7 linked regions of the Homo sapiens genome follow. The protein of the gene in region 2 purifies or fractionates together with the protein of the main gene of each other region. This does not show direct contact. Each region holds a gene or a part of one and is shown on either strand. Other genes may lie near its edges. The genes, in order: NDFIP2, NRSN1, HGFAC, PACC1, ZDHHC9, PUSL1 and DSC3.

Region 1 (3,500 bases), on a different chromosome or scaffold from region 2:
CTCAAATGGAAATCCTCTGCCCCAATAGTGCAATTTATAGTTTCATTCTATACGCTCCTACAGAGCTGAATGGGCACCAATATAGCAGTATTTCTCTTTAAAAATCTGAAATAGCTTAAATATGCTTATGTACTTTTACATGTCAGCATCTTCATAATGGCTGCAACGCATAAATTTATCCAACAAGAGTTTGATAAATTCTAGGATTTGTATTTAAACATATGATCACAGTATTCATTAGTCCAATATCAGGAACAATTTACATTTTAAGAAAGGTAGACATATGCTAACAATATTTGCTTCTCTTCACTATGTTACTTTAATACACATACAGCCAATTCATAAAAACAACCCAAAATAGTTTAGGAAGATTACTTACTGAAAAATGCCAGCATGAAAATGCCATCATTCCCCACTCTGAGCTGGTCTGCATCACTGAAGTCATCTCTTGGTGGACACTCTTCCTCCTGAATCTGTAAATATGTAACATTGGAATAGCTCACTAAAAATTACAACTTTATCATCTTAAATGTAAGCATAAGAACTTCAGCAACATCTAATGTTCTCAATTTGTTGTATAGACAAATGCAATAATGAGTACAATGTCTGGCACAGAGTAATCAATAAGCATTAGCAACTAATATTTTTTCACAGTCACATTTGAAAAGAGTAACTTTAAAGATAAACACAAAAAAGATAAAAGATGAATAACATCAAACTCATAAAAATGGTATCAAGAAGATACATGTGACAGTGCTCCATTAGTAATGACTGGGAAATAAGAACTTTCATAACCAGTGGTGGAGTATAAATTGGTACAACTTATATTGTTGGCAATTTTGCAATAATTATCAAAAATAAAAATGTGCATACCCTATGATCCAGCAATTCCAGTTCTTAAAATACACTGCACATATATATATATGTATACACACACACACATATTCCCTCTTATAAAAATGATGTATTAAAGATAATTCATTCCAGCAATGTTAATAAGAGCAAAAGATTAGATACAATCTAAATGCCCATCAACAGCAGACTATGTTAGGAGACAATTCTCCCCAAGTCTATCATGTTTCTACATGTCTTCCAGGTAGAGGCATTGGTGGCCTTTTTTCTGGAAAAGCTGCCGGCATTCGATGCCAGTCCCTCAAGCAGCCACAGAGCTGTACACTGCAAAGCCTCAGGGGCAGAGCTACCCAAGGCCTGGGAAGCCCACCCCTTGTACCAGTAAGCCCTGGATGTGAGACGTGGAGTCAAAGATTATTCTGGCCAGGCGCTGTGGCTCACGCCTATAATCTCACACTTTGGAAGGCCAAGACAGGTGGATCACTTCAGGCCAGGAGTTCAAGACCTGCCTGGCCAGCATGGTGAAACCCTGCCTCTACTAAAAATACAAAAATTAGCCAGGTATGGTGGCACATGCCTGTAATCCCAGCTACTCAGGAGGCTGAGGCATGAGAATCGCTTGAACTCGGGAGGTAGCAGCTGCAGTGAGCCGAGATCACACCGCTGCACTCCAGTCTGGGCGACAGTGAGACCGTCTCAAAAAAATATTATCTTGGAACTTTAGGATTTAATGACTGTCAGGCTTGGTTTCGGTCTTCCATGGGGCTTGTATCCCCTTTTGTTGGCCAATTTCTCCCTTTTGGAACCAGCATATTTACCCAATGCCTATAGTGCCATTTTATCTTAGAAGTAATTAGCTTGTTTTTGATTTTACAGGCCCGTGGGTGGAAGGGACTTGCCTTGTCTCAGATGAGGCTTTGGATTGTTGACTCTTTGAGTTAATGCTGGAATAAGATTCTGGGGGACTCTTGGGAAGGCATGGTTGTATTTTGAAATGTGAGAAGGACATGAGATCTGGGAGAGGCCAGGGACAGAATTATATGGTTCGATCTGTGTCCCCATCCAAATCTCATATTCAACTGTAATCCTCAACTGTTGGAGATTGGGCCTGGTAGGAGGTGATCGGATCATGGGGGTGGTTTCTAATGGTTTCACATCATTTTCCTGGGCGCTGTTCTCATGAGAGTGAGTGAGTGCATTATTGTTTTTTCTGAGATCTGGTTGTTTAAAAGTGTGTGGCATCACCCCTTCACTCTCTCTCTTCCTCCTGCTCCAGCCATGTAAAATGGGCCTGCTTCCCCCTCACCTTCCGCCACAATCGTAAGTTTCCTGGGGCCTCCCCAGAAGCTGCTATGCTTCCTATACAGTCTGCAGAACTGTAAGTCAATTAAACCTCTTTTCTTTATAAATTCCCCAGTCTTGGGTATTTCTTTATAGCAGTGTGAAAATGGACTAATACGGTACACATCATCTCAGTTGAGTGTGAATAACTCAATTTTGTGAGGCCAAGTCTGAGAAGCTAGGGCTCTGCTCAATATCACATAATTAGGAGGGTCAAAGTGGAACTTGAATCCAGGACACTGATGTTGTTTCCACACAATCATGGTAGTCTCACTAAGCATACTGCTATCCTGAAATAAAAAAACTTTCAAAACCATTTTATATTGCTTATTATTCGGGCACAAAGATCCCTTAAATTGTGCAATCATATATCATAGGTAAACTCAATATACTAAATTTAATGACTGGCCATGACTAAGTGCATATTTATAAAATTTTAAATAATTTCAAATTAATTCAAGAAATAAACATTAAAGCACAGTAAGAACAAAAAATTGTCAGTGTGATGGCAAAAATATATTTCATACTGTGTATTTTAAAACATCAGTCCAGGCCAGGTACAGTGGCTCATGCCTGTAATCCCAGCACTTTGGGAGGCCGAGGTGGGTGGATCACTTGAAGTCAGGAGTTCAAGACTAGCCTGACCAACATGGCGAAACCCATCTCTACTAAAAATACAAAAACAAATTAACCAGATGTGGTGGCGTGCTCCTGTAGTCCCAGCTACTCAAGAGGCTAAGGCAGGAGAATCATTTGAACTGGGGAGGCGGAGGTTGCACTGAACTGAGATTGCACTACTGCATTCCAGCCTAGGAGACAGAGTGAGACTGCGCCTCAAAAACAAAACAACCACCACCAAAAAATCAATACAGAAATTTTATCAAAAGTCATCATTTAGGAAAAAAAAAAAAATTAAGACAAGATCTCACTCTCACCCAGGCTGGAGTGCAGTGGCACAATCATGGCTCACTGCAGTCTTCATCCGGGATCACTACAGCCTCAATCTCCTGGGCTCAAGTGATCTTCCCACTTCAGCCTTCCAAGTTGCTGGAACTACAGGTGCATGCCACCACACCTAGCTGATTTTTTTTTTTCTTTTTAGTGGAAATAAGGTCTCGCTGTGTTGCCCAGGCTGGTCTCAAACTCCTGAGCTCAAGCAACCTGCTTGCCTCAGCCTCCCAAAGTGCTGAGATTACAGGAGTGAGTCACTGCAATATGCCCAAAGATGTCTTTTATAATATTAATAGAAAAAATCGAAACACAAACATTTGAAAATAATTGTTCACTCTAGAGGAATGGCCACTAAG
Region 2 (3,500 bases):
ATACCAAGACAGTGTTAAGCTCTTTGTAAATACTATCTCATTTAATTCTCATATCTTTTATGTGGTTGGTGCTATAAGTATCACCATTAGAGGCCCCATAAGGCCAATTAATTTGCCCAGGGTTACAGAATGATTAAACAAAAGAGCTGGGGTTTGAGCTCATGTAGTCTGAGGTTAGAATCTATGTTTATAATTATTAGGCTATACAGCCTCTTGTTACACTATATGGCCAATAAATTGCAAGTTTATGTCAATATCCATGTCAAAAAATTCTGGGATCTTTTGGGAGAAACAAAGATTAAGGAAGACCTTAGGCATTATCTAAGGTTCATCTTCTCAGTATCCCTGAAGCCTCTTCCCCTTCTTAGTTTCTAAATGTTGGAATGTCCCAATGCCCTCTTCTCTTCTATGTCCACACTCTTCTCCTGGATGATCTCAGAAGTCTAGTGCCTTGTATAGATTCTATGTGTCAATAACTCCCAATTTATGAGCCGTAGATTGATATATTTAAATTGTCACTAGAGATCACTACTCCGATGTCTAATAGGCATAACCTTTACCTAAATCTGACTACTTTTCACCATCTCCACTAACGCCACCAGCATCTTTTGCCTGGGTACTTTAACACCCTCTAAATTTATCAACCTCTTCCAGTAGCTTCCCATGTCTCTCGAAGTAAAAACCCAAGACTTCACTGTGGTGTACAAGGCTCTACATAAATCATCTGTGCCTTGTTATTTTTCTTAATTCATTGCCTGTCCCTTTTCTCACCCCACTCCAACCAGATTGGAGACCTCTGGATCATTTTCAAACACACCAAACTTGTTCCCATTTCAGAGTTTTTGGACTTACTATTTTCCCAGTCTAGGATGACCTTCAGTCAGGTCTGTTCCCTCAACTCATCCTGGTATTCCTTGAGATGGCATCTCTTCTGAAAGCCTTCTACCATCAGCATATCCAAATACCAGTCTCCATCACCCCCTGTCATCCATAGCACTATCACTACCTAACATTCTATCATGTGGTTTCTTTGTTTACAGCCTGTTTCCCATGATAGATTGTAAGCTCCATGAGGGAAGTCACTTTTTCTTTCCCTGTTTACCACTTTAACTTCCAGAACTTTGAACCCTCTTGGCACAGAGTAGATGCTCACTAATTATCTGTTGAGGGACTAAATACATTGTCTAATGAGATTCCTTCATTTGAGGAAGCTGGGGTCAGAAAGCCTCATGATCACACACTCGGTAGAGACGGAGCTGGTATACTGACCACTGTACTACATTTCATCATTAACTCTCTCTAAATACCTAATGATTTCTTTTTAATAATTGTTGCAACTTGTCAGATGATACTTACCACGCCTGTAAGGAAGGCTGAAAGAATATAATGTTTTGCCTATGGATGGCTTCAATTAGTGAATTTAATGGCACATTTTTAATGGTAGCAATAATAATAATTCATATGGCAATTGCACCTATTTATGTTTAATCTGCTCATCAATAGTTGTGCTGTGTTTAGAGGCTTTCTTTGGCCCAAGGTTTAGATTCTTCTTTCCTAAGGTAAGAAAAATGCATTTAGTATCACCAAGAGTGATGCACACACAGCGAGTACTAAACCTCTCCATCCTCCACAGCTGCAGTATTAACCATGTCCAATAATTTTTCCATTCCCTAAGTTAAACACATGCTCCTTCCTTACCTTCCAGAATACTGAGCTCCACCTGTTAGGTGATCTTTGGATCTGGAAATCATCCTCATACTCCCAAATTGAGGCTGTACAGTCCTCATAAAACTGGTGCAGGTAGGACCGGACTCCATAGCGCTGGTAACCACCCTCAGCTGCAGCCTGTGCCTGCCTGGACCCACAGACGTTGCTGCAAGAACTCATCCTTCCCAGCTGGAATGACAACATCCACATGGATTAATGCCACAGGCTTTGGCCACAGGATCAAAAGACATATGAAAGGTAAGAACCAGACTGAGTAATGTATGCCTAGTTGAACAATGCTCTTTTCATTACAGAAAAGGTACTTTTAAAGACCCCTCTCTCTTGGCGGGGCGCAGTGGCTCACGCCTGTAATCCCAGCACTTTGGGAGGCTGAGGAGGGAGGATCACGAGGTGAGGAGATGGAGACCATCCTGGCTAACACGGTGAAACCCTGTCTCTACTAAAAACACACACACACACACACACACACACACACACACACAATTAGCTGGGTGTGGTGGTGGGCACCTGTAGTCCCAGCTACTTGGGAGGCTGAGGCAGGAGAATGGCGTGAACCCGGGAGGTGGGGCTTGCAGTGAGCCAAGATCGCACCACTGCACTCCAGCCTGGGTGACAGAGTGAGACTCCGTCTCAATAAAACAAACAACAACAACAACAAACCTGTCTTTCTTATAAGCTGTTCTTCTTTTTTGCTTAATGCAAGATTACCTAAACACTCAATGACTAGAACTGCATCTCCATAAATGAAATGAGATACAACAGCACAACTCACATAAATTAGGTACACATTTAAGCATGAAGCACACAAGAAATGGCAACAAAGAAGCTGAGATTTTTTATTGCCTTGACAAGAAATCTTTAATCTCTTAGAATCTAGTTGTCTTTGCACTTACATGTTAAAGAATTGGGCAGGCATTCTCATTTGCTGAAGATGGAGTTTGTCTTAGACTGTCCTCTCAGATTTTTAACTATGTTTCCTTGTGGAATCTACACCGCATTACTCTTACTAGTTTGAAATTTTGCCTTCCGATCTCATGTATCTTCCTCTGACATTTTAACTAATTGTCAAGTTGTATGAAGCTTTATTAAAAAGCTGCTGAGCAATTTATGCCTCATGCTTTATTAATCACAAATGGCTTGGCCAATAATTTACACCTCACTAACTCTAACACCATATATTTTACCCATTGTTTGTGGATACATCTGTCCATGTGGGTGGCTAGAGTATAATGTGGAGAGTGGACACAACCTTTTATTATTTTCCATGAAGTGTCTACTGTAAGTAAGAACTCAGAGAACTGTTAAATAAAACTATGTCCTAGGCAGGTTGTTTTGGGTTCTGCCTTTTTAAGATGGAAATTTCTACTTTATTTGACCTAATTGATACCCTTAGAGAGAGGCATTTATATGGATTTTGTTACTAATCATGGTTAAAAAAAAGAAAGAATTACTGAGTGACAGTAATTTTGTTGAATAAGGGAATTGTCAGTTATCGTCTTAATTTCTGATCTCCATATAAGCAAATAAATGTATAGCTGGAAATGTGAAATACGTGTTTGGATTTTTAAATTATCCTGTACACAGATGGTAACACAGTGACACAGGGAGGGGAACATCACACACCTGTCAGGGGGTGGGGAGCAAGGGGATGGAGAGCATTAGGACAAATACCTAATGCATGTGGGCCTTAAAACCTAGGTGATGGGTTGATGGGTGCAACACATCACCATGGCACATGTATACCTATGTAACAAGCCTGTACGTTCTGCACA
Region 3 (2,510 bases), on a different chromosome or scaffold from region 2:
GCCCCCCTTGCACAGCCCCCCCAGGGACAGCGTCTCCGTGGTGCTGGGCCAGCACTTCTTCAACCGCACGACGGACGTGACGCAGACCTTCGGCATCGAGAAGTACATCCCGTACACCCTGTACTCGGTGTTCAACCCCAGCGACCACGACCTCGGTGAGCTCCGGCGTGTCGTGGCTGCACTCTGGGCAGGTGGGCCCTGTGCTCCCCAGGCCAGGCCCAGACAGGGGCAGGAGCTGGGCAGACATGTGGTGCGGGGGAAGCTGGGGGCAGGGCAGGGAGGACAGGGCACCGCTCCCTTCTGGATCTCCCAGGCTGCCCTGTGGACCCCACTGGCTACCCTCCCTCCACCACGGGCCCCGACAGCCTCCCGTTCAGCCCGCACACCACAGGCTGACCCTGGCCACTCTTCTGATCAGTCCTGATCCGGCTGAAGAAGAAAGGGGACCGCTGTGCCACACGCTCGCAGTTCGTGCAGCCCATCTGCCTGCCCGAGCCCGGCAGCACCTTCCCCGCAGGACACAAGTGCCAGATTGCGGGCTGGGGCCACTTGGATGAGAGTGAGTTGGGAGGGGGGCGCCCAGCGCCCCGCCAGGGTGGACAGTGGCCAGCCACAGTGTGGGTGTCACGCTGAGGGCATTGTGTCCCACAGACGTGAGCGGCTACTCCAGCTCCCTGCGGGAGGCCCTGGTCCCCCTGGTCGCCGACCACAAGTGCAGCAGCCCTGAGGTCTACGGCGCCGACATCAGCCCCAACATGCTCTGTGCCGGCTACTTCGACTGCAAGTCCGACGCCTGCCAGGTGAGCTGGTGCCCGCCCCACCAGGACCCGACTGGTGGGGGCTCAGCTGGTCCTGAGTCTCCGAGATGCTTGCCCCTGGGGAGCCCAGAGCCTGGCGGCACCCCAACCTGGCAGGGCCAGCCAGGGACCCCTGGGCAGGGAGCACACTTACTGTCGGTGGCCAGCACCCCAGGGCCACCCAGAGCCCTGCCGGAAGGGCATCCTCCTCACACAGAAGGGGAGACCCAGGCTCTGAGAGGGGCCTGGGGTCCCACAGAGCCCGGACAGTTCCTGGCTGTCCAGCCCAAGGCAGTGCTTTCCGTGTGACACTAGGCACCAAAGGCCCCTTTGCCCCGAGTTCTCTCAAGCCAGCTCTTCAACCTTCAATAAGTTCTTCAACCTTCAATAAGCCCAACAGCCCAACCACGTCCTGGGCTCTGCAGGCCTGTGTGCTCAGGCGGCACGGCAACCCTGGCATGCGACGGCTCTCTTATGCCCCATTTTATAGCTGGGGAGACTGAGCCCCAGGCAGTCAATTCACTCTTCCAAGGCCACAAAGCCCAGGAGTGGTAGAGTGGGTAGGGCTTGTCACTGGACCTCGATAAGGGAAGTCAGGATGGTTTCCTGGAGGAGGGAGTGTTTGCACTGGTCCTGAGTGATGCGTAGGAGTTTTCCAGGGAGTGAAGAAGTCATTTCAGGAGGTGCTGGGACACAGGGTGGCTGTGTGGTCCACACAGGGTTCATGCTGGTGGGGAGAGGGGGACCGTGGCTTCAGGAAGGGGAATAACGTGGTTGGATGCCCTGGCCCAGCCAGTGCTGCCCCCAGGGAATGAGACACCTTTTCATGAGGTTCAGGAGAGTGGATCAGCTCCCTTGCTCAGAAATGCCTTTGTCCTCTGTCCCCAAGCTGCCACTTGGGGGAGAGGGGGGTCCCTGAACCAGGCCCCTGGGAGGGTGGCTCTGACCAACGTCTCTGCCCAGGGGGACTCAGGGGGGCCCCTGGCCTGCGAGAAGAACGGCGTGGCTTACCTCTACGGCATCATCAGCTGGGGTGACGGCTGCGGGCGGCTCCACAAGCCGGGGGTCTACACCCGCGTGGCCAACTATGTGGACTGGATCAACGACCGGATACGGCCTCCCAGGCGGCTTGTGGCTCCCTCCTGACCCTCCAGCGGGACACCCTGGTTCCCACCATTCCCTGCCTTGCTGACAATAAAGATATTTCCAAGAACCCGGCCCACGCTGCCTGGCCCCTGCCTGCGGCCCCGCCTTCCCCTCCAGGCCATGACTGGGGCCCAGGTCTATGCGCAGCAGGCCTCAGGCTGCCGTTCTGGAGCGCACACAGTCCTCAGTGGAGACGGAGCCTGTGGCCCCACAGCGGGGTCTGGCCCCACGGCCCAGAGAGTTGTCAGGGGATGAGGTCTGGGCCTCTCCAGGCCCCAGCAGAGTCCAGCCCCCTCCCAGGCCAGCCCCAGGCCGGGGCTCAGCACCTGGGTTGTCCCAGGGCAGGAAGTGGAAACCAAGTCCAGGCCCCCAGGCGTGGAGGGGTCCGATCCGCGTGGTGCACGGAGTATTGAACCTGAAGAAGAAAGAGCGGCCCCACGGGAACACCCGCAGGCCGTCGTTGGTCTTCCAGATGGCAGCCCGCCTGCCTGAGCCTGGGCTGCACTTCCCGGGAGGGAGGAGGCCACAGGCTGCCTCTGTGGGGGCTGAGGGAGGGAGGGGCCCATG
Region 4 (3,229 bases), on a different chromosome or scaffold from region 2:
CTTGAAGTCTATTTTATCTGTTACAGGTATAGTTAAACCTGTTTTTTTATTTACATTTGTGTGGGATGTCTTTTTCTATCCCTTCACTTTTTTTTTTTTTTTTTCTGAGATGGAGTCTTGCTCTCTTGCCCAGGCTGGAGTGCAGTGGCATGATCTTGGCTCACTGCAACCTCCACCTCCCGGGTTCAAGTGATTCTGCTGCCTCAGGCTCCCAAGTAGCTGAGATTACAGGCATGCGCCACCACACCTGGCTCATTTTTGTATTTTTAGTAGAGACAGGGTTTTGCCATGTTGACCAGGCTGGTCTCAAACTCCTGATCTCAAGCAATCTGCCCACCTTGGCCTCCCAAAGTGCTGGGATTATAGGCATAAGCCATCACGCCTGGCCTGTCTCTTCACTTTCAATCTGTGTATCTTTACAGGTGAACTATACGCTGTATGGCAGCATACCGTTGGGTCTTGTTTTTTAATAAATTCAGCAACTGTGTCTTAAGAATTTGGTCCATTTACATTCAATATTATTACTGATAGAGAAGGACTTACTACGGCTATTTCGTTTTTTGTTTTTTGGTTTTGTAACTTCATTCTTCTTACTGTCTTTGTGGATAAATGATTATCTCTTTAAATTCCTTACTTTTTATTTTTATTATATCCATTATAGGTTTTTGCTTTATGGTTACCATAAGGCTTATAAAAAACATCTTGCAGTTAAAACAAGTTATTTTAAATTGAGGACAACTTAACTTTGATCACAAAGAAACAAAAAACTTTTAAAACTACACTTCAACTCCATACTCCTCACATTTTGACTTTTTATTATATCTATTTATATTTTTGTTTTGCCTCTTTTTTTTTTTTTTTGAGACGGAGTCTCACCCTGTCACCCAGGCTGGAGTGCAGTGGCCCAATCTCAGCTCACTGCAAGCTCCCGGGTTCACACCATTCTCCTACCTCAGCCTCCCGAGTAGCTGGGACTGCAGGCACCCGCCACCACGCCCGGCTAATTTTTTGTATTTTTGGTAGAGACAGGGTTTCACCGTGTTAGCCAGGATGGTCTTGATCTCATGACCTTGTGATCCGCCCGCCTCGGCCTCCCAAAGTGCTGGGATTACAGGCATGAGCCACCGCACCCGGCCAAGGCCATTGACTCTTGATTTACCCTTTTGAGGCTATTTTCTAGACCTTGTGAGTGTTCTTCATTCTTTTTTTTTTATTTGTGTATTTTCATATAATTTGTCTTTAAGCTCACTAATTCTTCTGCTTGATCAATTCTGTGAGGCACTCTGATGCATTTTTCAGTCTGTTAATTGTACTTTTCAGCTCTAGGATTTTTATTTGAATTTTTAAAAATTATTTTAATCTCTGTTGAATTTCTTTGATAAATTTCTGAATTGAGTCTTTGTGTTTCATTGAAGTTCCTGGAGTTTCCTCAGAACATCTATTTTGAATTCCCTGAGTGGTCACACATCTCTCTCTCCCGGATTGGTCACTGGCACCTTAGTCTGTTTGATGAGATTGTATTTCTCTGAACTTTTCTGGTGCTTGTGTACGTCTGTCTATGGGCATTGAAGATTTAGGTGTTTATTTCAGTCTTCACAGTCTGCCCTTGTTTATACCCATCTATCTTCAGGAGATTTTCTACAAATTGAAAGGTGACTGATGATGAGTTCCCTAAGCGTGTAGTCAGTCACTGCAGCTGTTTCAGCACTAGAGGGCAGTCTAAGCCAAGTTACACTGTGACTATCTTGTAGACTTCTAGATATCCAGCCCTGATGTACTTGGGGAGGATCAGAGAGAATGCCCTGGGGGTTCCCAGGCAAAGTCCCTTATCTTTCCCTCAAGGGGAAGGAGTCTCTCTGCTCTGAGTTGCCTGGAGTTGGGGAGGGGTAAGGCAGGTACTCCCATGGCTGTCACAGCTGGCACCACCCTGGGTCCCTCCTAAACCAATGCAATACTGGGGTTTGCTTAAGGCCACTTTAGTCAGCCAGTGGTGAAGCTGGCTGGGGTTTGGGTCCATCCTGCTAGGGTGGCCGATTGCCTTTTGGCCAGGGTGGGTTTAGAAGTGCCATTTGGGAGCAATAGCCTATAATTAGGGGATTCGGGATTCTTCCTGGTGCTGTGGCAGGGCTGGTACTAGGTTCCAAGGCAAAGTCCCTCATACTCTTCCCTCTCCTTTGCCCAAGCAGGAGTGTTCCACCATGCTGCACTGCCTGGAGTTGAGGCAGCTGGTGTCATGCTGGATCACACCCCAAACCCACAGACTCCCAGACCAGTGCAGTATCAGAGCTGTGGTTGCTATGGCCTGGCTGCCACTGAAATTATTTGGGGCCTAAGGCCACTTTAGTCTATTGTAAAGTGGGCCCAGACTTGGTTTCCTCCCACTGGGGTGGTAGATGCCCCTCTGATCTGGGGTGGGCCTAATACTCTTTTCACGGGCTCTAGCCTGGAATCAGGGCCTCAGAATTCTGCCTGGTGCTGTTTTCCCTTGTGAAGTTCCAATGCAAGTTCCAGACTCACTTCCCTCTCCCAAGCTCACAGATTCTCTCTGCTGCACTGCCTAAGGTTGGGGGAGGGGTGTGTAGGCAGCGTGAGACCCTCCTTTCTACTCTTCTTCAGTGTGTCTTTTCCTGTTATTATACTAAACCAGATACTGTGATCTCTCACCTGGTTTTTTGGCTCTTGTGTAGATACTTTCTTACATGGATAGCTGAGTTTGGTGTTGCTGCAGAGGACTATCGCTGGAGGGTTCTCTTTAGCCATCTGGCTCCACCTCCTCTAACGTCAAATTCTGACTCATGATCTTGGAAGGGGAGGAATAATTGGACAGCTTTGCTAAAGGAACATTTAAGACACACCGTCCACCAGAGCCAGGCCTAAATCTAGTATTGATTGGCATTCATGTCATCATAATATATCCTGATGTGATCATGGCTTACAGGAAACTGTTTCATAGCTGAGACCCAAACGTGTAAGCTTCCACCCCCAGGTGGGGATTCTGTGATACGGATGTGCTTGCTCTGCTATCACCCACTACCACTATTAATTATGGACTGGCAAGGCTTTGTATGAAGAGGGATGTGCAGAGGCTTATTGAATCAAGACTGGGGAGAAGGGCTTGCAGCTCGTTGTGTAATGTGTGATAAAACATTTTTTAACCTACTATATTCAGTATGAGGTACCTATTATGGGCCAAGTGGAGCCCAGTACCCGAGGCATGCTTTACTCAGCT
Region 5 (3,500 bases), on a different chromosome or scaffold from region 2:
CCGCATTTGGTTGCAGATGAGGAACACACTGATACTGTATTTATTGGAAAAAAAAAACCCTCATTATTAAGTGGGCCCATGCAGTACAAAACTGCATTGTTCAAGAGTCGACTGCACATAAAACAAAAACAAAAAACAAACAAAAAGGAAATAGGGCAAAAACTAATAAATACCATAAAACCTATATTTAATATTTTTCCTAGTCACCAATAATTCATTGTAATACTAGTAAAATAATAGCATATTTTATGCCTATCAAAATAAGAATATAAATAATAAAATCCAGTGCTAGTGAGAATAGGGTAAAATGGACACTCTAACATACTGCTTGTGGGAGCATAAAATGAAAGAACCTTCCCAGAAAGCAATTTGGCAGTACGTATCAAGAGCCTTCATAAAGCTTGTACCCCTTTGGTAGAATAAGTCCATTTTCAGCAATTTCTCATAAGAAAATAGAAATGTACACAGAAATTTTAAGTTCAAATTTTTATTTTTATTTATTTATTTATTTTTGAGACACAGTTTCACACTTGTCACCCAGGCTGGAGTGCAATGGTGCGATCTCGGCTCACTGCAACCTCCACCTCCCAGGTTCAAGCCTCATCAGCTGCCCGAGTAGCTGGGATTACAGGCATCCGCCACCACGCCCAGCTAATTTTTGTATTTTTAGCAGAGACGGGGTTTTGCCATGTTAGCCAGGCTGGTCTCGAACTCCTGACCTCAGGTGAAATGCCCGCCTCAGCCTCCCAAAGTACTGGGATTACAGGCATGAGCCACTGCGCCCGGCCGAAGTTCAAACTTTTAAATTAAATTTTGTATTGTTTGGAAGGCCCAGGCAGGGGAATCATGAGGTCAGGAGTTTGAGACCAGCCTGGCCAACATGGTGAAACCCCATCTCTACCAAAAAATGCAAAAATCCGTGGGTCGTGGTGGTGCACACCTGTAATCCCAGCCAATCACGAGGCTGAGGTGGGGGGATCACTTGAGCTCGGGAGGCGGAGGTTGCAGTGAGCTGAGATCACGCCACTGCACTCCAGCCTGGGTGACAGAGTGAGACCCTGTCTTAAAAAAAAAATCTATTATGGTAAAATATACATAACATACAATTTGCCATTTTAACCATTTTAAGTGTGCAATTCAGTGGCATTAATTACATTCATAATGTGGAACCATCACCATTATCTATTTCCAAAACCCTTTCATTACTCCAAACAGAAACTCTGCACCCATTAAGCAGTAACTCTCCATTTCCCCCTTCCCCATCCCCTAGCAATCTCTAATCTTCTGTCTCTATGAATTTGCCCATTCTAGATATCTCATATAAGCGGAATCACACAATATTTGTCTTTTTGTGTCTTTTTTTTTTTCACATAGCATGTTTTCAAGGTTCATCCACATTGTATCAGTACTGTATTCCTTTTTATGACTGGATAATATTCCACCGTATGTACATACCACATTTTGTTTAACCATTCATCTGTTGATAGACACTTGGGTTGGTTACACCTTTTGGCTACTGTGAATAATGATGCTACGAACACTGGCGTACAAGTAGGTTTTGAGTCCTTGTTGTCAATTCTTTTGGCTATTGTTATGGAATGAACTGTACCCCCACTCCCCAGTTCCATATGTTGAAGCCCTAACCCCCAATGTAGCTGCACTTGGAGGCAGAACCTTTAAGGAGGTAGCTAAAGTTAAATGAGGTCATCTGGATGGGGCCCTAATCCGATGGGACTGGTGTCCTTGTAAGGAGAGGATGAGACACCAGTAGTGTGTGAGCACAGAGAAAAGGTCACGTGAGGACACAGCAAGAAGGCAGCCATCTGCAAGCCAGGGGGAGAGGCCTCACCAGAAACCATCCCTTCTCGCACCTCTATCTTGGACTTCCAGCCTCCAGAATTGTGAGAGAAAAATTCCCATTGTTTGAGCCAGCCAGTCTGAGGTATTTTGTTATGGTAACCCAAGCAGACTAATATAGGTATACACCCAGGAGTGGAATTGCTGGGTCATGTGGTAATTCTATGTTTAACTTTTTGAGGAACCACCAAACTTTTCCACAGCAGCTGCATGATTTTACATTCTCACCAGAAATGTATGAAGGTTCCAATTGTTCCACATCCTTAAGTTTAATAATTATGATTGCAGTGTTACAACAATGAATAAAATAGAAGAATGAATAATGTCTAATGACAGAAGACTGCCTGAATAAACTTGAATAGAACCATATGATGGATTATGCAGTCATTAAAATAATATATTAAAGAAACATTTATTAAAGATGTAGAAAAACGCTCAGGATAGAATGTTAAATGACAAAAGCAGGATTAAAAACTATCATGTTACAGTCCAATTTTGCAGAAACACTAGTAGGAAATATAGCAAAATGGAGAGTGAATTTAGGATTAAGTTTTATTTATACTTTCTGCACTTCCCATATTTTCCACAATGAACATGTGTTATTTTGATGAATAAAAGACTACAAAAGAATAAAATACATCAATTTGGGCCAGGCGTGGTGGCTCACACCAGTAATCCCAGCACTTTGGGAGGCCGAGGCAGGTGGATCACAAGGTCAGGAGATAGAGACCATCCTGGCTAACACGGTGAAATCCCGTCTCTACTAAAAATACAAAAAAATTAGCCAGGCGTGGTGGCGGGAGCCTGTAGTCCCAGCTACTCGGGAGGCTGAGGCAGAAGAATGGCGTGAACCCAGGAGGCGGAGCTTGCAGTGAGCTGAGATCGCGCCACTGCACTCCAGACTGGGAGAGAGAGACAGCCTCCGTCTCAAAAAAAAAAAAAAAAAAAAAAAAAGAATAAAATATATCAATTTGAAAGAAAAGTGAGCTGTGTACTGGTGAAAAAATAAGGCTGTAAAAATGGTCTATCTCCTGCTGAGGAAGCTACATCTTTTCAGGAAAGGGAAGAAAGGTATAGAGAAGAATGGTTATACAGATATATATTTTTTACAGTATTTTAAATCACATTTTTTCTGATAATACAAGTAATACATGCTCATTGTAGAAAACTTGAAAAAAATAAAAGGAAAAATGAAGAAATCACAGTAGTGGAGGATGGCATATGAAAAAATGAAGGAAACAAAATCACTCATAATCCCACAACCTATAGATAATAAACTATAAAAATTGTGGCATATTTCCTGTATTTCCTTGCATATTTCTTTATACATCATTAGATTTTTTAAAAATAGGTAACTGACTTCACACTGTAAATGTAGCCTATCTCCCATTTTGTCATTTAGCTTTCTGGTATGAACTCTTTCCATCAGTCTAATGTACGAATGTCCTATTATTTATTTATTTATTTATTTAGAGACAGAGTCTTACTCTGTCGCCCAGGCTGGAGTGCAGTGGCACAATCTCGGTTCAATGCAGCCTCCACCTCATGGGTTTTTTATTCTCATGCCTCAGCCAGGGTCTCAGCTGGGATTACAGGCACATGTCACCACGTCCAGCTAATTTTTGTATGTTTTAGTAGAGACG
Region 6 (4,031 bases), on a different chromosome or scaffold from region 2:
TGTTCCCCACGCGCTGCTCTGGACACAGGATCAAGTCAGAGACCAGGGGCCGACGCCCCCACGGACCCAGACGACCCTGGCCAGAGCTGGACTGCAGGGCCCGGGAGGGGCTCAGCCCAGTGGAGGTGCAGACACAGAGCGGGGGCGGACGGTCCCGAGGTGCCCACGGCTGCCCACGCGCACGCCCTCCACCCGGGGCGGCCGCACAGGGCAGGAGCGTCTTTTGTTCCAACCCCCGGGGCATGGCGGGGCGGGGCCGCCGCTTTGTCCGAGGCCGGTCCTCCAGCCCCTCCCCGGCGGCCGCGGCCCGGCCCGGCGCTGACCTCCCCACCCCGCCGCCGGGCACAAAGGCGACAGCGACGCCCCCGGCCTGCGCCCACCCCGGCGGCCCCGGGCGGCGCACCTGAAGCGCGGGGAGTCCTTGACGCACTCCTCGAACTCCACGGTCATGGCTGCGGCGGCCGCGGCGCTCACTGGCACGAGGACCGCGGCGCCGAGCGGCAGCCGCGCCGGCCCGGACCGCTCGTCCCGCCCGCGCCGCCTCGGCGCCCGCCCGCCCCGGAATGAGGCCGCCGCGCCGCGCCCCGCCCCGCCTGTCACCGCCGGGGAGCGTCGCCAAAGTCAGCCGCCCGCGCGCACCGCCCGCTGTCACTGCCGGGGAGCGTCGCCAAGGTCCGCCGCCCGCGCGCGCCGCCCGCTGTCACCGCCGGGGAGCGTCGCCAAACGCCTCTCGCAGCGTCCAGGGACCACCCCGGTCCGGAAGTGAGGCGGGGCCTGCCACGGCCGTCTCCGGGGACAGTCGGTGGAAATGTGGGGCGCGGGGAGGGCGCGGGGAGGGCGCGGGCCCGCCCGCTCCAACCATCCCGGCCGTTGCGCAACTCAGGGCGTTTGCAAAAACCACGTCTGGGAGGACTTGGCCGCAACGCGGCGAACGGGCGCGCTCGGGGAGTGTGGGCGGCGGCGAATGAATGAGCGAGTGAACGAATGCACGCCCGCGAGAGCGCGGGGTGACCGCGTGGTTGGTGCGCGCCTCCCGGGGCGCCGCGATAGAGGTAGAGCGCCTGCGCTCGGCGGCGGGCCGGCACTTTGCAGCCGCTCCCTAAGCCCGGCCCCGCCTCCGCTCCCCGACTCTGGCCGCCGTGGCGCGGTGCCACCGCGCAGGCGCAAGAGCGGCCGGGGCCGGGGGGGAGGGGGGGGGGGCGTGACCAGGCCGCGTCCGCGCGCGCGCAGGATTCCTGCGCTGGAGGCCGCCTCTGACGCCACCGGCTGGGCTCCGCCATGAGTTCGGCGCCGGCCTCAGGCTCCGTGCGCGCGCGCTATCTTGTGTACTTCCAGTACGTGGGCACCGACTTTAAGTAGGTTTCCCAGGCGCAGCGGCGGGCGCCACGTGGGCCCGGGCGGAGGCGGGAAGGAGGGCGCGGGCGGGCAGGCGGATGTCTCTGGACGCGGGTTCCAAACGTTCGGGGAAGGAAGCGGCCCTGGCCTCAGACGGCGGCGGAGACCCCAGGGCAGGGCGCCCCCGGTAACCTCCGCCCGCTTCTGCCCGCAGCGGGGTCGCGGCCGTCAGGGGCACTCAGCGCGCCGTCGGGGTCCAGAACTACCTGGAGGTGCGCTCAGCCGGTCACGGGACGCCCGGTGAGGGGTAAGGGGGAGGCTCCCGCCCGCGCGTCCCCGGGGTCCGGCCTCGCTCACCCGCCCGCCCCGCGGCTCGGTCCTGCAGGAGGCCGCCGAGCGGCTGAATTCCGTGGAGCCGGTCAGGTTCACCATCTCCAGCCGCACGGACGCCGGGGTCCACGCCCTGAGCAACGCGGCGCACCTGGACGTCCAGCGCCGCTCAGGCCGGCCGCCCTTCCCGCCCGAGGTCCTGGCCGAGGCCCTCAACACACACCTGCGGCACCCGGCCATCAGGTGAGCCCGCGACCTAAGCAGCCCTGGGGCTGTGCCTTCCCGACTCCATCTGTCGCGGGCGGAGGCTGGAGATCTGGACAGACTTCCTTGTCTGGTCGGAGCTCGAGGGGGAAGGAGAGCCAATGTGACACCGCGGGCGGGCGGGGTCGTTCCTCCGGTGAGCTTTACCTGCCGCCATAGGGTCCTGCGGGCCTTCCGAGTGCCCAGCGACTTCCACGCTCGTCACGCAGCCACGTCCCGGACCTACCTGTACCGCCTGGCCACTGGCTGTCACCGGCGTGATGAGCTGCCGGTGTTTGAACGCAACCTATGCTGGACTCTCCCGGCAGAGTGAGTGTGGCCCTGACAGCGGGGAGGGGGCGGGCAGGCCGGCCCCACCCTCCTGACGGTCACCCTGGTCCCTGAAGCTGCCTGGATATGGTCGCCATGCAGGAAGCCGCCCAGCACCTCCTCGGCACACACGACTTCAGCGCCTTCCAGTCCGCTGGCAGCCCGGTGCCGAGCCCCGTGCGAACGCTGCGCCGGGTCTCCGTTTCCCCAGGCCAAGCCAGCCCCTTGGTCACCCCCGAGGAGAGCAGGTGAGGAAGGGCCCCTGGGCTGTGGCCCTGCCCTCAAGTCACGTGCTGATTTTAGCTCCAGCACCTCCCCCAGTTTTAAGGCAAGGTGAGGCGGGAGGCAGGCAGCCGGGAGTCCTCAGGACCTGGACAGCTGGAGGGGATTCGCCCGGACGCCCCCCAGCCTCCAGCTGTGCCCTCCCCCCAGGCTGGGGAGCGGAGAACAGGGAAGGCTGCTTGTCTCTGAAAAACCCCTGCCATGCCTGATGGAAGAATGTTGGCAGCTACTGGAAAGGTCTCACTGGTGCCAGTGGTTCTGGTGGGGTGGTTTCTGCTGCCCCCAGCACTGTCCCGAGGGCCACCCACCAGGTGGCAGCTTCTGACCAGAACCTCCCCTATTGGGGTGAGCCCTGAAGGGGGGAAGAACTTCTGCCAGCCCCAGACTTCTGTGGCAGAGCAGCAGGTACAGGACTGGGGGTCTCTGGCACCCGCACCAGCCACGTTCCCAGACCCTGCACCAGGACCCTAGGTGAGGGCCCAGGGCAAGCCCCTCTGGGATGGCCAGGCTACCTGCCCAGCCTCCAGGGTCCTGCTGCCTCCTTGCCCAAGCATTGTTTCTCTGGTTTTAAGCCCCTCCAATGGGCCTCACTGGGGGCAGGAGATCAGCCAGGGCCCCTGGTGGCCAAGCTAGTGGGAACCAGGCTCGTCTTTAGGCCCACCCTGTCACTCTCCCGTCCAAGGCCACATAGTAGGCTGAGGATGGCAAACACTGCCCCACAGACACCTACAGGTACGTATTTTTCCAGGAAGCTGCGGTTCTGGAACCTGGAGTTTGAGAGCCAGTCTTTCCTGTATAGACAGGTAGGCTCTGTTCTGGGGCCGTCCCCAGGGGGTGGGGCTGAGGGTGGGCAGGCCCCTGTGCAGTCTTGGCTCTGGGTCGTGGGCGGCTCTGGGTCACAGGTACGGAGGATGACGGCTGTGCTGGTGGGTCACGGGCGGCTCTGGGTCACAGGTACGGAGGATGACGGCTGTGCTGGTGGGTCACGGGCGGCTCTGGGTCACAGGTGGCTCTGGGTCACAGGTACGGAGGATGACGGCTGTGCTGGTGGCCGTGGGGCTGGGGGCTTTGGCACCTGCCCAGGTGAAGACGATTCTGGAGAGCCAAGATCCCCTGGGCAAGCACCAGACACGTGTAGCCCCAGCCCACGGCTTATTCCTCAAGTCAGTGCTGTACGGGAACCTCGGTAAGAAAAACAGGCACGAGAAGCTCCTGTCATGTGCCCAGTGACTACTGTGGCCGAGGCATGGGGTGGGGGGCCAGGGGCCACTGACGGCAGCAACTGGGGGTGAAGCAGCCCCCCGCCCAGGGCTGCAGTCCCTCAGGCCAGCCCGTAGCCCGTCCTGGGCTGGCCCACTCCCTGGTCATGGGAGTGGTCTCAGCGGTGGGGAGGGTGCTGGGCCGGTCTTGCCCCAGGCTGACGCAGGGTCTGGTCCGTCCACAGGTGCTGCCTCCTGCACCCTGCAGGGGCCACAGTTCGGGAGCCACGGATGACCCTGGACACTCAAGCC
Region 7 (3,500 bases), on a different chromosome or scaffold from region 2:
GTATGTGGTTATAGATTTATTTTTACCTTAAACCATTGCCATTTCTATTTTCGGGGTCATATGCCTTATAGCCGTTGATCTTTGACCCCACTGCTAAGTTTTCTTTAATCCGCACATATTGGGCTGCAGGAGTGCATTCAGGCCCCTCATCCAGATCCCTCACATGAACTGTAACCAAGGCTCTGTTCAAGGCTGTCACTCTGGGAATATCTCTAGCAAATGGCGCTTCATTGTTTACTCCAATTTCCAGGTTCACTTGACGGTTTTCTTCATAATTCAGTGGCTTTAAAATAAAGTCCATGTATATCAGTGTCAGTGTAAAATACATCTGGCATTTCAAATGGCAAGTGAACATTTGTCATCCTGACCAGTGCTGCATAAATTCTATGTTCACATGTTGTTAATACTGACTTTTATCCCTTGCTAAACAGAGAGTGGATCCCGTGCTAAGCCTCTACCAAGAATGGTCCAACAACTTCTGCAGGTAGTTTCATAGAGTTGGACAAACGAAATTCCGGAAATATTTTCATATTTCACTCTTACTAAGGAAAATTACTCTGATTCAAAAAGTAATGCAAACAGATGACAGTATTCTTATGGTCCTGCTTGGAGCACTGTCTAACAGGCTGGGCTAACGGTCATCTGAGTATGGGAAGTTGCCTTTATTTGGCTTATCAGTTACTACTGACTATGGCCCAGGCATTTTATAACTCTTGTAAAGTTTGATGTTGACTTTCACAAAACCAAAAGGTGCAATGATTTCATTTTCTGTCTCATAGAAAAGATATCTCCAGTATTTTATTTTCTTTTATTTTATTTTTGAGACAGAGTCTTGCCTCATTCTGTCACCCAGGCTGGAGAGCAGTGGCGCAATCTTGGCTTACTGCAACCTCTGCCTCTTTGGTTCAAGCGATTCTCCTGCCTCAGCCTCCCATGTAGCTGGGACTACAGGCACGTGCCACCATAATCAGCTAATTTTTGTATTTTTTTCTTTAGTAAAGATGGGGTTCTGCCATCTTAGGCTGGTCTCGAACTCCTGAACTCAGGTGATCCACCTCCCTTGGCATCCCTAAATGCTGGGATTACAGGCGTGAACCACCATGCCCGGCCCCAAATGTGTGTTTTAATTGCCCTCTAAGGCATCTAACTGAGCCATCTAATTGCTGCTTTTCTTTTATCAAAATCCATCCAGAGTCTCATTTCTTCTTAGGAATCAACTTGTCTTTTTGCTGGTTCCTTCATGAATGAGTTAAAACCTTTATCCATCCATGCCCACTACCTGTTTTTATGAAAATTACATTTTTGAAAACTTGAGAATTATACTTTGGCATTGTCTATAATTTATCCAATGAAACATTCACAGTGGATACACAGAGGAGTAAGGGAAATACTATGTGATTGATTTTAATTATCATTGAATCTAAGGCACTACTCTAACAGTGAAAATAAACTCACTAAATCCTCATGACATTATGAAGTAAGTATTATTGACCTCATCCTCATTTTACAGAGCAGAAAACGGGAAAAGGAGATAAACTGATTTTTTTTTAAGACCAAAAGATAATCATTTGAGCTTGAATTTGAAGCCAGGTAGTCTGACCTGAGTCCATTTCCTTAGCCTACGCTATAATCCCTCTGCTATCGTGTGCTGCTTAATTGGCTCACTGATCTCTAAAAAATTTCCAAATCAATCTTTGACTAAAATTCAGTTTTAGATAACAAATCAAGTAAAACCCATAAAACATTATGTTACACTGTACTATAAAGTTGAAGCACTTTTTCTTCAATTTCTCTTTCTGCTTATCAAAACAATCACTGGCTAAACATTGAACAAAATCAAAACTGGTGAATAAAATTATTTTAAATCTTTCTCCACACCTAGGTATTAACAGAGTAAGACATTAGTATCACGAGTCCACTAAAAAGTCAAGAAAGTTTCTGAATCTTAGAATCTACAAAACATATGTAAAACCTTTTTTTATTTTGTATGTATATCCCACAAACTGGAGAGTCAAGGAAAAAAATATTAATATCTGTTCGTTTGATGCTGATGAATACTGTTTCACACATTTCATGTGCTGGTGTGATCACACAGAGAGTAAGAGCAACTGCTGGCAATGAGAAATGGATGGAAATTTAGAGAACAGCTGCTGCACTGGAGGAGGTGCAACTATTCAATCCAGAAACACTCGCTGAAGCCTTGGAGTTTCTTTGTCCCATTTTTCGAGGCTTAAGATGGATATTGTTTTAGTAGCTTAAAACTCTCCAAAATTAAAAATCTGGTGAGATGAAATCCTAAAGATTAATGGGATTAGTTAATCTCATTAATTAATAGGAAAGCCTGTAAATTCTCTTCCACCTCAGGGTACGTTTTTGTTTCGCCACTTAAAAAAAGTGCTTAAAAATATCCCACATCTGCACTGAGATGTTAACAACTCCCTAGAAAATGTATAGTTGTGGAAATGGAGCTGAGGACTCTCCATGTTGAGAAGGACCAAGAATAATACTATCCTCACTCAAGCCCATATGCGTCACTGCTGCTGCTCCAATGGACAGAAGCCACTGAGGTGGAATGAGTTTACCCAGAACACAGCAAAAGCCTGTATCACTCATGCTTTGTGGTTACAGAAAAGTTATCTATTTTGGAACATTATAACACTAGTCTCAAGGACATAGCATAACTTTTTAAAATAAAATAATAATATCCCACAGTTTACCAAGTGCTGTTACGTTCAATATTATATTTGAAGAGCTATTAGGGAGGCAGAAAGAAGTATTGTTCCCATTTTACAGATAACACAGAGGCCAACTTTCCAAGATCACACAGCTGTGGAAAACAATTTAACATAGTGCTTGACAGCGTATAGTTAGAGTCAAAGAGCTAGGTTCAAATTCTGTCTACACTACATCCTAGCTGTGTGGCATTGGGAAAGTTATTTAGTCTCTTTAACTCTTCTCTTCTGTGAAATTGTTGTAAGAATGACATTTAACACTACAGCATAAAATAAGGCTTTACACTAAATTCTGAGTAATCTCTCAAGCTGTCACAGAGGCGAATGAAGGGAATAAATGCTGTATGTTTTTGTTAACAGCCAATATATTGCAATAAAAGGAGACGCTAACTAGTAAGACAATGTTTGCAAGCTTTATTCAGCTAAAAGTATACCAGAGCAATTCTTGGTTTGGCCTACTGATTACTTAACTCTTTGAGGTATAAAGGAATGAATAACATGCACTCTTTCCCTGGATATAATTCTGACTAGCAAGGAAGAACCAGGGCATTGGAAGAGGAGGATTCCTTTAGAGTTAACAACATAGTGATGTCATTCTTTAATCAGTACTCAAAAGGTTAGTCATCATTAGGTACATAGCCTACATGACAGAAACATGGATTTTGAACACCATGATTATACAGTGTTTGATTTTCAAATAAAAGATGACTCACTGAGATTAAAAAGTACTTAAAGATGCCAGGCACGGTGGCTCACGTCTGTAATCCT

Evidence for each region.
Region 1: the proteins of NRSN1 (region 2) and NDFIP2 purify together in Homo sapiens (affinity purification with mass spectrometry; one large-scale study listed by BioGRID and IntAct). This does not show direct contact.
Region 3: the proteins of NRSN1 (region 2) and HGFAC purify together in Homo sapiens (affinity purification with mass spectrometry; one large-scale study listed by BioGRID and IntAct). This does not show direct contact.
Region 4: the proteins of NRSN1 (region 2) and PACC1 purify together in Homo sapiens (affinity purification with mass spectrometry; one large-scale study listed by BioGRID and IntAct). This does not show direct contact.
Region 5: the proteins of NRSN1 (region 2) and ZDHHC9 purify together in Homo sapiens (affinity purification with mass spectrometry; one large-scale study listed by BioGRID and IntAct). This does not show direct contact.
Region 6: the proteins of NRSN1 (region 2) and PUSL1 purify together in Homo sapiens (affinity purification with mass spectrometry; one large-scale study listed by BioGRID and IntAct). This does not show direct contact.
Region 7: the proteins of NRSN1 (region 2) and DSC3 purify together in Homo sapiens (affinity purification with mass spectrometry; one large-scale study listed by BioGRID and IntAct). This does not show direct contact.

The regions. Positions count from the first base shown.
Region 1 is NC_000013.11:79,536,655-79,540,154, reverse strand, and holds part of NDFIP2 (NEDD4 family-interacting protein 2), read right to left. Parts: intron 474-3,500; coding exon 380-473; intron 1-379. UniProt on the Homo sapiens protein: Activates HECT domain-containing E3 ubiquitin-protein ligases, including ITCH, NEDD4, NEDD4L, SMURF2, WWP1 and WWP2, and consequently modulates the stability of their targets. As a result, may control many cellular processes.
Region 2 is NC_000006.12:24,132,715-24,136,214, reverse strand, and holds part of NRSN1 (neurensin-1), read right to left. Parts: intron 1,897-3,500; 5' UTR 1,888-1,896; coding exon 1,699-1,887; intron 1-1,698. UniProt on the Homo sapiens protein: May play an important role in neural organelle transport, and in transduction of nerve signals or in nerve growth. May play a role in neurite extension. May play a role in memory consolidation.
Region 3 is NC_000004.12:3,447,477-3,449,986, forward strand, and holds the end of HGFAC (hepatocyte growth factor activator serine protease isoform 2 preproprotein), read left to right. Parts: intron 1-15; coding exon 16-155; intron 156-418; coding exon 419-559; intron 560-651; coding exon 652-800; intron 801-1,760; coding exon 1,761-1,943; 3' UTR 1,944-2,010; downstream 2,011-2,510. UniProt on the Homo sapiens protein: Serine protease that hydrolyzes the inactive zymogen hepatocyte growth factor (HGFsc) to an activated disulfide-linked heterodimer, then initiating hepatocyte growth factor receptor signaling pathway.
Region 4 is NC_000001.11:212,366,658-212,369,886, reverse strand, and holds part of PACC1 (proton-activated chloride channel), read left to right. Parts: intron 1-3,229. UniProt on the Homo sapiens protein: Chloride channel gated by pH that facilitates the entry of chloride ions into cells upon exposure to extracellular acidic pH. Involved in acidosis-induced cell death by mediating chloride influx and subsequent cell swelling.
Region 5 is NC_000023.11:129,816,387-129,819,886, forward strand, and holds part of ZDHHC9 (palmitoyltransferase ZDHHC9), read right to left. Parts: intron 1-3,500. UniProt on the Homo sapiens protein: Palmitoyltransferase that catalyzes the addition of palmitate onto various protein substrates, such as ADRB2, GSDMD, HRAS, NRAS and CGAS. The ZDHHC9-GOLGA7 complex is a palmitoyltransferase specific for HRAS and NRAS.
Region 6 is NC_000001.11:1,307,366-1,311,396, forward strand, and holds the start of PUSL1 (tRNA pseudouridine synthase-like 1), read left to right. Parts: upstream 1-1,231; 5' UTR 1,232-1,278; coding exon 1,279-1,355; intron 1,356-1,549; coding exon 1,550-1,607; intron 1,608-1,720; coding exon 1,721-1,908; intron 1,909-2,088; coding exon 2,089-2,238; intron 2,239-2,315; coding exon 2,316-2,486; intron 2,487-3,268; coding exon 3,269-3,323; intron 3,324-3,422; coding exon of another isoform or gene 3,423-3,435; exon of another isoform or gene 3,436-3,474; coding exon of another isoform or gene 3,475-3,543; coding exon 3,544-3,706; intron 3,707-3,964; coding exon 3,965-4,014; coding exon of another isoform or gene 4,015-4,031. Other genes in the region: ACAP3 (arf-GAP with coiled-coil, ANK repeat and PH domain-containing protein 3), read right to left, coding at 404-450.
Region 7 is NC_000018.10:31,008,243-31,011,742, forward strand, and holds part of DSC3 (desmocollin-3 isoform Dsc3a preproprotein), read right to left. Parts: intron 284-3,500; coding exon 27-283; intron 1-26. UniProt on the Homo sapiens protein: A component of desmosome cell-cell junctions which are required for positive regulation of cellular adhesion. Required for cell-cell adhesion in the epidermis, as a result required for the maintenance of the dermal cohesion and the dermal barrier function.